Regions from separate parts of the Homo sapiens genome. Here region 1 is linked to region 2. A link means that fine-mapping ties the variant in region 2 to the expression of a gene that starts in the linked region. Tissue or cell type: whole blood. Region 2 holds a variant in brackets; the other region holds the start of a gene. All regions are shown on one strand. Distances are from middle to middle.

What was found. PIP is the estimated chance that this variant, and not a neighbour inherited with it, causes the effect.
Region 1: it holds the start of LSP1, and the variant in region 2 is fine-mapped to the expression of LSP1 in whole blood (INTERVAL, PIP 0.93).

What each region holds. Positions count from the first base shown.
Region 1 is chr11:1,851,594-1,854,450 of GRCh38, reverse strand. It overlaps LSP1 (lymphocyte specific protein 1), which reads right to left and starts at 1,367. Exons shown (of 11, transcript NM_002339.3): 1 at 1,254-1,367. The coding sequence starts at 1,306. RefSeq lists enhancers at 1,276-1,595, 2,587-2,636.
Region 2 is chr11:1,874,442-1,877,332 of GRCh38, reverse strand. The region is part of intron 1 of LSP1 (lymphocyte specific protein 1); the gene reads right to left. Among named protein-coding and RNA genes, the nearest start is that of MIR7847, 4.2 kb to the left of the region's middle. RefSeq lists enhancers at 1-889, 890-1,786. The variant C/T (reference allele first, on the strand shown) is at 1,628.

The sequences.
Region 1 (2,857 bases), 23 kb after region 2:
GCCACCAACAGCACAGGAGCTTTGTGTGAAGGCCGGGAGGTGGTCCCTGCACCGCCCCGGGTCGGGTAGACCGGGACCCTCTGCTGTCAGCACCAAGGCAGAGACTGGTAGCAGCCCTGGCTGCAGTTTTGGGGTATGTGAGCGTCACCCTGGGCCTCCTCTCAGGTCCGTCCTGTGTGGCTGCGGGCATCACACTCTTTCTGCAACCTGGGCCCCAGCGCCTTCCCTTCCGCACACCAGGCCACAGCCCCCGCTGACCTGCTCCTAGGCCGGCCTCTATCCCCAGCACCGGATCCCCATCCCCTGACCATTAGCACGTCGCCCCTCTGCCCCTCAAAGCCCTACCTGTCCCTGCACCGCACGCCCTGAGCCCTCCCATCTCTTCTGGGACCTGCACCGGGGGCAACTCGGGTTCCCCTGGCGAGGCTCAGCTGTGATGCCTGGATGCCTGCTGGCCGGCAGCTCCCCTCTGCCAGGGAGCCCAGTTACTAAGCCGCTAGCCCTCTCCACCCACCCCAGCACAGGGCTGGATGCCCATTGGTACCACAGAGTACAGCTGCCCGCTAGGAGGCCTTTGGCAGCGGGGTTTTTCTGCCCAGCTCTGGCAGTCCTACACACAACCTCTGCCATGCCCCCTCATGTCCCCACTCCAACCAACACACGGTGCCTGGCACCCAGCACAGGCACCTGCCAGAATCCTTGGCCTTGTCCTTTACCGCAGGTCAAGGGCAGCTTTGGGTGCCCTGCCCTGAGGCCTGCTGGGCCCCAAGCCTGGCGGCCTCCAGACCCTCAAGGCAGGATAGCCCCTCTCAGATAGTCCTGTGGGCAGGTGGCCAGGCCCGGGCCAGTTCCACCCATCCCAGAACAGCTGCTCCCCAGCCCCCACCTTGCCTCTTCCCAAGCTAACAGGGCCCACAGTCCCCAGCTCCTCCCTGGCAGTCCAGGACACGTCTTGGGGTCTCCTCGCTTCAGGCATCCACCATGGGCTTAGGATCCCACGCGCCTCCCCCAGTGAGTCCAGGGCACAGAGGCAGGCGGAAGAGACCTCCACCCTTGTTGTGAGAGGGGGGTCCCAGCAAGACTTCCTGCCACCTGTCTGTGGGTCCCCAGTTTCCCCATCGGACATCCAAGTTCTCCCATTGGGGGCCCCAGATTCCCCATCAGGCACCTCAGTTCTCCACCCTCCATGCAGCTCAAGGACTATGCACCCGTGGACACGGCACAGGGCGCCGGGCGTCGCCGCAGACCCTTACCCCAGCAACTCTTCCCGCTCCTCGGCACCCGGGTCACTCGAAGCCTCCGCCATCAGCCTGTAGTCTGGGCCCCACAGGGTGCTGGCAGATCCCTGGAGTGGGTGTACGTGCTGTGGCTTTCAGTGCTTTCTGGGGCGGCTTCTGAGCCCCCACCCCCAGCCGAGTTTCACTTCCCCCTTCCGGCTGCAGGTTGAGGTTTGGAACCTGTCTCGGCTTGGGTCAGGGTGTTGTTTTTTAATCTGTTGCTACAAGAGGAGAGGAAGAAAAAAAAAAAAACCCAAACCACCCCTCAGGAAGCGTTAAGCAAGTTACAGGGGCCTGGGGTGACAGAGACGGGGTGCGAGGGCCAAGATGGCCGCAGGCAGCTCTTCATGGCTCGGGGAGGGGGACCCATGTTACCCCTGGTCCCCGCTAGTAGCTCTGGCCATCAGGTCCACCTGTGAGTGGCCAGTTCTCCTGCAGCATCAGGGACAAACACGTCTGTGATCCCATAAGCACCACGTGAGCGTTTTAGCTTCTTTGGGTGAAATCTACCCAGAGGCCGGCTCTCCTACAGGTGCTCATGGAACTTGGTGGAGTCTTTTCTCGAAGCCTGGGGTCATAGCCTTGAGCACATCAAACAGCTGTGGGTCCCAGGTGGCTTTGGGGGCTGTGCCCGGGATGCCCCTGCGTTCTACCCGTCGGGTGCCTTGTTCTGTCTTGGACTGCCTTGCTGATGCCGAGCTGTCGGGCATCCGCCTCGTCCCCCCGCTGCCCCTTGCTCTCCGTGCTCTGGTCGCTGGAGTTGACCACCGAGTGGTTCGTGTCCCCAGGCTCTAAAGGCAGTGCCTCAGGGACCCTCCCAAGAGGCATAGGCCAGCCCGAGGGGAGGGATGGAGGCTGTTTCCAGCCCTCACTGTCCCCAGCTTCTGGGAGTGACCACGCAGTGGCTCCAGGGTCAGGAGGAGGGATGCATGACTGCAGGAGCCAGACCCCAAAAGCTGAGGCAGGGGAGGACTTAAGCTGGGCCAGAGTAGGGCAGCCACAGAGGTGGCGAAGGCTTCCCTGCTGGAAACCTCAGCGCAGGAGAATGGGAGAAGGGAGCCCTGGCCAGCGGCTGGGCCTGAGAAATCCAACCAGCAAGGACTTACAGGGGGTCCCAAGGCAAAGAGGGGCTGGAGAGAGGCCAGGGGTTGGGAGGGCCCTGGGCCCAGAGTGTTGACCCATCAGGGTGGGGCCGAACCGGAGGCCGCCTCCTTGGGACTCAGCGAGCCCCCCACCCACCAAACACACCACAAAGACCAGCAGAGGCTTTCAGAGCCCCACGAGTGGAGGCACCAGAGGGATCCGTGGCCCAGACGATGGGCAGGGCTAAAACCAGATCAGGCCCAGCGCCATGGAGATGAACAGGCCATGCCTGTGTCTTCCCCACGCCTCCTCCCTGGGGGTCCCTAAGGGCCCCCAAGTCCCCCTTGCAGAGTGGCACATGGCAGAGCCCTGCGGTTCTCACCATGCGGCCTCCATCCTGAGGCCATCCTGAAACGGCTCCCCTCATGGTGGTAGGGTCTCGCCTCCAGGTTGCAGCCATTCCGCTCACCCACCCGTCCAGGCACTGCATCGGCAGG
Region 2 (2,891 bases):
GAGGCCTCTGGGCCCCTTCTACGTCTCCTCCCTTTCCCCTACCCCAGGATATGAGTCATGCGGGCCCCCTCCCCATGACCTCACCCCCTCACTATTCCACAGCTGGGCTCCGTTCTGGGAACTGAAAGGGGGGCAGCTCTCCTGGGGTGGGGTGGGGGCCTCTGGCCTGGGAAAGGCGCCCCCCGGCCAGCGGCCCAGGCCCCTTGGCATGCACCACGGAGCTGTCAGGACTCTGGGATGGCCGACCCCGCCCGTGGCCCTGGCTCAGCCCCGTGCAGCTGCGAGGGATTTGGTGTTCCTGCACAAATGCAATTAGGCGATTTCCTGTGTCTGTTCTGGCTCCGAAGCCCAAGGTTCAGCCCAAGGGGCCAGGCGGTGGGGGGGCTCCATCCACCTCCCACCCCAGCACACCCCCGCACCCTCACAGTCCCAGGCTCCACTTCGGGGCCTGGCCCCCAGCCAGGGACACCAGTATGCACAGAACTCTGACGGATGCCTCGTTCGGAGTGGAGCTCCCCAAGCTCAGGTCTGTTCCTGCCGGCCTCATCCACTGCCAAGCACCCCCCGACTCGGGACGCTGGCCCTTCTTCTCCTTCCTCCACAAACCCCCACCCCCACTTCTACCTCCCAGTCCCCGCTGAGGGCCTGACAATGCCCATCCTCGGCCCAGCACTCCCAGCTACCCACCTCCGTCCTCCCCCTGCAGACACTTGCAGAATGGGTGTCCGGCTCGGTCCCCGTCCCGACTCTGCCCCCTGCAGGCAGCTCCTGTGGCTGCCCCACCCGGCTGTCCTGAGCCCAGAGGGCGGCTGGAGAGGGTCCGTCCTCTCTGGGGTCCTGGGGAGTGAGGAGGCTCTGGTGAAGAGCAAGGGCTGCGGGGAGGATGTCGAGGGGAGGGGGAGCTTCTCCTCCAGGCCTGACCACAGGTCCCTTGGACACCACAGGGAGCTGGCAGGAGGCCTGGGGAGCTGGGCTGGGCCTTCCACCAGGGTGGTTCGGGGCTCCCTGCACAGCACTGAGGTCTCTGGTCCCCTCATGAGCCCAGCCTCCCCTGGGGTCCTAGACTTGACCCCTCAAGTCACTGCAGAGCCCAAGAGTGGAGAGACACAGCACCGTGTGCCGGGAAAAGGTGCCCACAGGGGCCCTCCGTGGCTGAGGCTTCCAGAGGGTAGTGGGACAGCAACCCCGCTCCCCGCCAGCCGCCCACCACAGCGTTCATGATACAGCTTCGGAGTGTGTGTCGGGGCCTATCTGGGAAGCCAGGGCAAAGGCGGTGGCAGCTGGCAGCACCCACACCCACAGCTGGGGCACTGCTCACATGAGCCCCCATCAGCAGGCCCCTTGGTTGTGCCACACGCAGGGGTCCTGCCCCAGGGAGGGGGCAGTCCAGGGAGGGGCTCGAGGGTGTGGCACAGGCCAGCTGTCACTCCTCCCTGGAGAGGCAGCTGGGGACGCAGCTGGGAGGGGAGCCAGGAGCAGAGACAGCCCGGGGCCAGCAGGTGGGTGACAGGTGGGGCAGCGGGAGGGGCATGCGCCGTCCGCCTGGGGCTCGGGCGTAGAGACGGGAACCTGCCCCCCAACGCCTGGTGCTGGCCCAGCCTCCCCCCCGGGGCCTCTAGCACCTTCC[C/T]GGTTGTGGCTGCACCCTGCTGGGCATGGCAGGGGAGGGTGGGGGTCAACCCCTTTCCTTGTAGTCCCACGCCAGTGGGCAAGGGAGACGCCGCAGTGAGCAGGACCCTAGCCTCTCTGCCTGGGGAGGCCGAGTGATGAGCCGCCCGGAGCAGGAGGAGGCCTTGAACTTGGGTCTGAAAGATGAGCAGGGATTTGCTGGACTGGGTGCAGGCAAGAGCTAATGCAGGAAGGCAGAGAGCAGGATTGCTCAGAGGGAGTGGCTCTGTGCAGCTGGAGCCGGATGGGTGACCCTCACTCAGGAGGAAGCACTGGGACCCTCTCTGCACGCGCTGGGTCCCCCGCCTCCTGTTAGGATCCCCACACCCAGGTCCTTCTGGGCCTCTGCTGCACAGATCAGGTCTGGAAGGCTCCCTGGAGGAGGCAGCGCCTGGACTTGGACATCGGCCTGCAGAGCTGGCTTCCCTCACAACCCTGGGAAGACAGAACTCCTCAGCGGGTTGATGGGGGGGAGGGCGGAGCCTCCCTCCACGGCACCAGCCCAGTGCTGGGGGCGACACAGACAGCCAGAAGCTGGCAGGGGCCGGAGGCTCTGCCCCCCATGGGCTTTACATGCCGAAGCCCCCATGGCCGAGCTGGGACCCAGGGTCAGCCCAGGGAGGCCGCGAGAAAGGAGACTGTGGGCCCCACCCCATCACACAGGGAGGAGGTGCTGTGCCCGCTGTGGGGGGCAGCTGCCCCTCTCTGGGCCCTTTGGGTGGGAAGAGGCTTGGTGAGGTAGAAAGCCCAGCCCCAGCCGGCAGTGTTGCCTTCTCACAGTGGCAGCCCTTTGTAACCAAGGGGGGCCCTGCCGGGCCTCTCCTTGTTTCCTCACCATGGGGCAGCATTTGGGGACCTCTTGAGGGACCCCCTAGGTGCTTCTACTCAGAGCCCCCAAAGCCAAGGAGCCTCCACTCCTCCGTCTGCAGCCTCCCCTGCCGGTTCTCACTACCCAGGGTTCAGTGGCCTGGGGGCTGCCGGAGGGAGTCGCCTCTGCCAAGGCCCCTCCCGGCGCCTCCCTGGCTCATCCAGCCCACCTCCCTCCCACGCTGGCTCAGGCAAAGTGCTCTGGTCACCAGGAGCCCTTTCTGACCAGCCCCGGCCCCTTCTTGGCCTTCGCCCCACCTGGCCTCCCCTGGAGCCCTGGCCTGGGTGCCGGGCCTGCTGGGTCCAGAGCCCACCCCACCCTGAACAGCCCTGAGTCTCAGCCACCCTCTGTTCTCACC